Linked DNA regions of Homo sapiens. The protein of the gene in region 1 interacts with the protein of each later gene in a pairwise test. Each region holds a gene or a part of one and is shown in the gene's direction. Other genes may lie near its edges.

Region 1 (3,649 bases):
GGGGGGTCCCTGCGTCCCTGCCACAGATAGCGAGGTCCCGGGGGGGTCCCTGCGTCCCTGCCACAGATAGCGAGGTCCCGGGGGGGGGGGGTCCCTGCGTCCCTGCCACAGATAGCGAGGTCCTGGGGGGATGCCTGTGTGCCTGCCACAGATAGCGAGGTCCCCGGGGGGGTGCCTGTGTCCCTGCCACAGACAGCGAGGTCCCAGGGGGGTGCCTGTGTCCCTGCCACAGGTAGCGAGGTCCCGGGGGGGGTGCCTGTGTCTCTGCCACAGCTAGCGAGGTCCCGGGGGGCGGGGGTGCCTGTGTCCCTGCCACAGATAGCGAGGTCCCGGGGGGTCTCCCTGTGTCCCTGCCACAGATAGCGAGGTCCCTGGGGGGGTCCCTGTGTCCCTGCCACAGATAGCAAGGTCTCACGGGGGCAGGGGCTGCAGTCCGACGGTCTGGGCCACGTCACGCCCACACTTGGGTCAGAGCCAGGCAACACCCCTAAAGTCACAGGAATGGGGAGCTGCTCACCCCCAAAGGCAGCGGGCGAAACATGGCGGAGAAGAAGAACTCCTGGTGGGCAAAGACTGGGTCACCCTTGGCTGGCCACGCCCCGGACTGGCCACGCCCCATTGGCTGGCCACGCCCCCTCGGTCACCTGCGCTGCGCCACGGCCGACTCCTGGGCCCAGTGCAGCTGCCCAGCAGGGGAGGCCTGGGGTGGGCGAAGCCGGGCTCTGAGCTGTGTTAATGCATTAACTTAGAGTCCGCATATCACAGTAGAGTGCTGTTTATAAGAAACCAAAATGTTTTTAAAGTTGTGCTAAAAATAAGTTAACATTGCAGCAGATGTTTTTCTCCATCAGACATTTCCCTCCATGGTGGTCTGGCAGACGTGGGCCGGGCATGGGCAGCTGTCACCCAGCCCCCGGGGACTTAGAGCTGCGGGGCACGGTGGGGCGGGCTGCAGGGAGCAGACCCTGCTGGGCCGCTGATCCCTGACCCAGCGTCCCCACTGTCCCCGCCAGGTGGTGGCCTCTGCCATCCCCGACGACCAGGGCTGGGGCGTCCGCCCTCAGCAGCCACAGGTGGGTTTGCGGCCCCTCAGACCCCTGCCTGGCCTCACCCAGCTTTCTGGGAAAGAAAATGCTGCACAAGCTCTGAGCCCTCCTGGGGCTGCGAAGTTCCTCTGATGGGAGGTGTGGGGTGGCCATCCCATCCCTGTGTAAGACCTGGGGAAACCACTCTTCAAGGTTCAGGAGGAGGGAGGGCGGCCCCCGACCCTTAACCAGAGCGAGGTTGTTGCTTTGTGTCCACAGGGACCAGGAGCGAACCATGATGCCAGGTAGGAGGGGCTGACTGGGCCCTGCGAGCGCGTGCCTTTCCTGCTGGGCAGAGGCCCTCCACATGGGGCCACGCGGGCCGGGCACAGGAGGGCAGTCAGATGGGCAGGGCCTGAGAGCCTCCCTCCTCTCCCTAGGTCCCTAATCATGGACTCCCCAAGAGCTGGCACCCACCAGGGCCCCCTCGATGCAGAGACAGAGGTCGGTGCTGACCGCTGCACGTCGACTGCCTACCAGGAGCAGGTGCGTGGGCCTGGGCCTCTTCCCCTGCTGGGGGTCGGTGCTTCTGCTGCCTCCGCAGACTGGGGACCACAATGGGACCAACATGAGGGTGGAGGGAGCAGCTCGCTGGGGGGTAGACGGGGCCGGGCTCACCCGTGGTCCTGGCCCAGCCCAGCCAGATGGGAGGATGCCTGGCTGTGCCCGAGGCGAGTGGGCATTGGCCATCAGGACAGGAGAGAGGTGGTGTCCAGTGGAGACATCCACGTAGCCCTGCAGGCCCTCAGCCCCCAGGACCACCTCAGTTTGGCCATTGCCCCTCCCCTCCCACTGGGGTGCGAGTGACCAGGAGTGACCCAGCTGGGGACAGGCGGGAGGCAGGACAGCTCTGGAGGGGCCCCAAGGCTCCCGCCCCCCATGGGGGCCCAGCAGCGACTCCATCCCCCGAGTCCTCCCGGACACCCCGGCACCTGGGGAGAGGCGGAGGAAGGCAGGAACCCCAGCTGCTCCCAGGGTGGCAGCCGTGGGCGGAGGCTCTGCTGCAGGATCCGGGAGGCCCAGAGAAGGCACCTGCATTTCACGCTGAGCGCATCTGAGGATGCGATCAGGAAGCAGCCCCGGCACTCTCTCTTTATGGATGCCCACTTCCAGTTTAACCGTGGCATCCCGGGGGCAAGGGCGCCCTCCAAGCTGTGCTTCACTAATTCCCTCAGGGTTTGGAACTATTTGCCCAGTTCCCACGATGGGCCTTTAAGCTCTCGTCCTTCCTAACCTAAGGCAACTTCAACCATCTGATAAATCTAATAATAAGTTACAATCGAGGCCGGGCACAGTGGTCTGTAATCCCAGCACCGTGGGAGGCTGAGGTGGAAGGATTGCTTGAGCCTGGGAGGTGGAGGCTGCAGTGAGCCATGACAGTGCCACTCCACTCCGGCCTGGGCAAGACAGCAAGACCCTGTCTCAAAAAAAAAAAAAAAAAAAGCCAGGCGAAGTGGCTCACGCCTGTAATCCCAGCACTTTGGGAGGCCTAGGCAGGCGGATCACAAGATCAGGAGATCGAGACCATCCCGGCTAACATGGTGAAACCCTGTCTCTACTAAAAAATACAAAAAATTAGCTGGGCATGGCGGCGGGCACCTGTAGTCCCAGCTACTCAGGAGGCAGAGCCAGGAGAATGGCGTGAACCCAGGAGGCGGAGCTTATAGTGAGCCAAGATGGCGCCACTGCACTCCAGCCTGGGCGACAGAGCGAGACTCCCTCTCAAAAAACAACAGCAATGCCTGACCCTCAGGGTCTAGCCAGCGCTGGGCTGTGACTTTGTGACTTGCAGCTGGTGAACTGGTCTCCTGCTCAGTGCCCAACTCAGGGCACACGGTTAATGTCGAGCCCACACAGAGGCCGGGGCCCAGGGACTGGGTCCTCAGCTTCCTGGGGTCACTGGGGAGCCCACCCACCTGGAGCTGCCACCTCGGTGGGCCTTGGGGGACGGGGCGCTCCCTCCTGGTGACAGGCAGCCTCTAGGTCTGCAGGGACCCAGCCCCATCCTAAGGCAGCCGACTTGTGGCCAGTGCCCTGAATTCAACACCCACAGACCACCTGCTGGGTGCTGGCCGGGCACACAGGCCACACCCTTGGTGTGGGCTCTGCGAGGACAGTACCGGCCTCCAGCACCTGACCGCCCCAGCCCACCCAGCCTGTGCTTCTCTTGCAGAGGCCCCAGGTGGAGCAAGTTGGCAAACAGGCTCCTCTCTCCCCAGGTATGGGCGTCCTCAGCGGCGGGGTCCCCGGGTGAAGGAGGAAGCTGCTGGTGCATGGGTGCCGGCTGCCCTCCACCCACAGGGCCCACTTTGGTGGTAGTGGCTGTGTCAGTCTTGCTCTGTCCTACAGGGCTGCCGGCAATGGGGGGGCCTGGCCCCGGCCCCTGTGAGGACCCCGCGGGTGCTGGGGTAAGAGGCTCTAGACCCTTCACCTGTCAGTCACCTGAGGGAGGCTGAGGCCAAGCCCCATCCCTCAGAATCAAGGCTTGCAAGCCCCCCTCACCTGCCCAGTCTCTGTCCACACCCCTCGGGCTGAAGACGGCCCTGACCAGGCCCTGGGCCTCA
Region 2 (3,649 bases), on another chromosome or scaffold:
CTTGCAGACATCCAGGTGAGAGACATCCAGCAGGAGAACGAAGCACCCCATAAAAGCAAATTATTAGAAAGGCAGGAATGGAGCCATCCTCAGGGAAGGCTTAGGACAACTTCTCCATCTATCTGCTTCTCCCTGGCTGGCCTTTTTTCTCTCCTCCTGCAAGTATACCTCTGCATGATACACATGGCTGCCAGCATCTTAGTGACAGGATGGAGGAATCCTCTTCACTTCCTGATATAGTTTTGTCTTGTTTGAGACAGAGTTGTGCTCTGTCGCCCAGGATGGAGTGCAGTGCTGCGATCTCGGCTCACTGAAACCTCCACTTCCCAGGTTCAAGTGATTCTTGTACCTCAGCCTCCCAAGTAGCTGGGACTAAAGGCACACACCACCACGCCCAGCCAATTTTTGTATTTTCTGGTAGAGATGGGGATTCACTTGCCAGGTGCGGTAGCTCACGCCTGTAATCCCAGCTCTCAGGGAGGCAGAGGTGGGAGATAGCTTGAGCCCAGGAGTTCAAGGCCTGCTTGGGCAATATAGCGAGACCCCGTTCTCCACAAAAAGGAAGAAAAAAAAAGACAAATAAATAAATAAGTGAGACACGGATTCACCATGTTGGCCAGGCTGGTTTCGAATTCCTGACCTCAAGTGATCTGCCCACCTTGGCCTCCCAAAGTTCTGGGATTACAAGTGTGAGCCATCATGCCCAGCCTTTTCCCCTTATTTTCCTACTTGATAAGTTTTGGTTTGCCTCACTGTGTCCTGTGCAGACTCTCAGCTCTTCCATCCCCTGTATTAAATTTTCTCTATTTGAAATAACTAGCATTTCAAACTGTCCTAGGGTCTTCAGTGTTCCGACAACCAGCATCACTGCACTGCAGAAGACAGTGCAGTATGGTTTCTGTTGGGTCGTCTGGACCCCGAACCCTCAACTGATTCAGTCACCCAAACAGTAGCAGAAAATGCCAGGTCTTTTTTTTTTTTTTTTTTTTTTTGAGACAGAGTCTCATTCTGTCGCCCAGGCTGGAGTGCAATGGTGTGATCTCGGCTCACTGCAACTTCTGCCTCCCAGGTTCAAGCGATTATCCTGCCTCAGCCTCCTGAGTAGCTGGGATTACAGATGCACGCCACCAAGCCCAGCTAATTTTTGTATTTTCAGTAGAGACGAGGTTTCACCATGTTGGTTAGCTGGCCTCGAACTCCTGACCTCGTGATCCGCCCGCCTCAGCCTGCCAAAGTGCCGGGATTACAGGCGTGAGCCACCGCGCCCGGCCAAGACCTCGCGTTTTCTAATCCAAAAAATTAGCCGGGCGTGGTGGCGGGCGCCTGTAGTCCCAGCTACTGAGGAGGCTGAGGCAGGAGAATGGCGTGAACCTGGGAGGCGGAGCTTGCAGTGAGCCGAGATCGCGCCAGTGCACTCCAGCCTGGGCGACAGAGCGAGACACCGTCTCAAAAAAAAAAAAAAAAAAAAAAAAAAAAAAGGAAAGAAAAAGAAAACGCGAGATCTTAAAACCAGGTCTCAGGACTCCTATACGAGGTACTCCAGTACTGTTAGGCTAGGGACTTTCCCCAGCACAGGCCATATACTGTGCGTATCAACCCCTAACTCGACTGTTGGATGCCTCCTGCTCTCACTCTTCACCTTCTTCTAATAACAGGCCCCTGCTACCTTGGTCACAGAAATGAGCACGTAATCCAACTGGGCAAATCAAAAAATTGAGATGAGATTTTTCAAAATGGACTAGCAGAGAAAAAGCACCTTTCCCCTCTAATTCCCAGCCTATTGATTCCCATGTGTCTCCTGCATTTGCCTGCGGTAGGAGAGACTGAAGCCACCCACGGAAGGCATAGTCATGAGCATCCATCAGTGTCTTTTTTTTTTTTTTTTTGGTAGGGGCTACAAAAAAAAAAAAAAAAACAGGTTGTTTTCGCCTGTCCTGCCCCTCACTTCCTCCCGGTTTTATTTCCTTTAGGGACACCCCTCTCCCACTCTAAATCCCCAAGGTTCGGGTGGGCTGACTCCGCCCCCCTAGCAGGCCTAGCCAATCAATGTATTGGCTAGCCAATCACTCTGTTGCTCCTGGGTTCAAGCGATTCTCCTGCCTCCCAAGTAGCTGTGATTACAGGCACCTGCTACCATGCCCGGTTAATTTTTGTATCTTCAGTAGAGACGAGATTTCGCCATGTTGGCCAGGCTGGTCTCGAACTCCCGACCTCAAGTGATCCGCCCGCCTTGGCCTCCCAAAGTGCTGCGATTACAGGCGTGAGCCACCTCGCCCGGCTGCAACCATCATTTTCAAACCTCTTTGCCTTTACTCATGCAGTTCCCTGTGCCTGGACTGCCCTTCCTGGCCCCAACGTCACCCCCTCCAGGAAGTCTCTGAGTCCCCAGATTTGACCAAGTGCCCTTCTTCTGATATTGAAATCTCAGTGCCTACCTTCGTATATTGAAATTGAACTATGTGGGTATTCATCAGGCCTCTTTCATTTGCAAGAGGCAGAAATTCAACTCAGGAGGGCTTCAGTAATGCAAGTTCAGCCATGGTGGGATTCAGGGGCTTAATGTCACTGGAACTTGGCGTCTCCCTCCATGTCTCCATTTTGCTTTCCTCTGCGTTGAGTTCCTTCTTAAGTCAGCTTCCTCCCCTTGCAGGCCCGGGTGGGTGTGGTGGCCCAAATGGACTTACACGGAGTCTCATTGGACCAACTTGGGTCAGGTGGCCTGCACTGACCCAATCACAGCAGCCTGGTGGGTAGAATACACTGATTGGGTAGGCCTGCCAGGGGGCGGAGTCAGCCACCCAAACCTTGGGGGTTTAGAGTGGGAGAGTGGTGTCCCCAAAGGAAATAAAACCAGGAGGAAGTGAGGGGCAGGACAAACGCAAACAACCCAACAGCCCCTACAATGTGGTTGGGCCCTACCAGACCATGGGCTCCCCAAGGGCAAAAATAATAACAAAGGCTCCCATGATTTGAGAGAGGAAAAAAAAAATAAAAAAATAAAAAAAACCAATAAAGGCTAACATTGACATCGTATTTCCTACTTGTAGGCTCTAAGTGCTGTACACATATCCTGGAATCTAGTGATAAGAAACAACCCCATGAGATACTGTTTTTCTTTTCAGAAAATTAGAATGGTCCCGTAATTGCTCACAAATTGAATCTTTTCTCCCTCGGCTTTATTGCGGTATGATTGACAAAGAAAAATTGTATATACTTAAGATGTGTAGTAAGATATTTTCTTAAAAGTCTACATTTCGAAGGCCGGACGCAGTGGCTTACGCCTGTAATCCCAGCACTTTGGGAGGCTGAGATGGGTGGATCTCCTGAGGTCGTGAGTTGGAGACCAGCCTGGCCAACATGGGGAAACACCGTCTCTACTAAAAATACAAAATTAGCCAAACGTGGTGGCGCATGCCTGTAATCCCAGCTACTCAGGAGGCTGAGACAGGAGAATCGCTTGAACCCAGGAGGCGGAGGTTGCAGTGAGCCGAGATTGCACCGTTGCACTCCAGCCTGAGCAACAAGAATGAAACTCTGTCTCAAAAAAAAAAAAAAAAGTCTACATTTCGAAATTATTAGTACAATCAAAGTAATTAGCATATCCATCTCCTCACATTATTACCATTTTGTTTGTGTGTGGGGAGAACAA

Evidence for each region.
Region 2: the proteins of NOXA1 (region 1) and MORN3 interact in binary tests that used the Homo sapiens proteins (3 or more experiments, as listed by UniProt).

Annotation. Positions count from the first base shown.
Region 1 is NC_000009.12:137,429,771-137,433,419, forward strand, and holds part of NOXA1 (NADPH oxidase activator 1), read left to right. Parts: intron 1-851; coding exon of another isoform or gene 852-980; exon of another isoform or gene 981-1,005; intron 1,006-1,013; coding exon 1,014-1,073; intron 1,074-1,304; coding exon 1,305-1,330; intron 1,331-1,465; coding exon 1,466-1,571; intron 1,572-3,258; coding exon 3,259-3,304; intron 3,305-3,434; coding exon 3,435-3,493; intron 3,494-3,649.
Region 2 is NC_000012.12:121,663,108-121,666,756, reverse strand, and holds part of MORN3 (MORN repeat-containing protein 3), read left to right. Parts: intron 1-2,435; exon of another isoform or gene 2,436-2,667; intron 2,668-3,649. UniProt on the Homo sapiens protein: Assembles a suppression complex (suppresome) by tethering SIRT1 and MDM2 to regulate composite modifications of p53/TP53.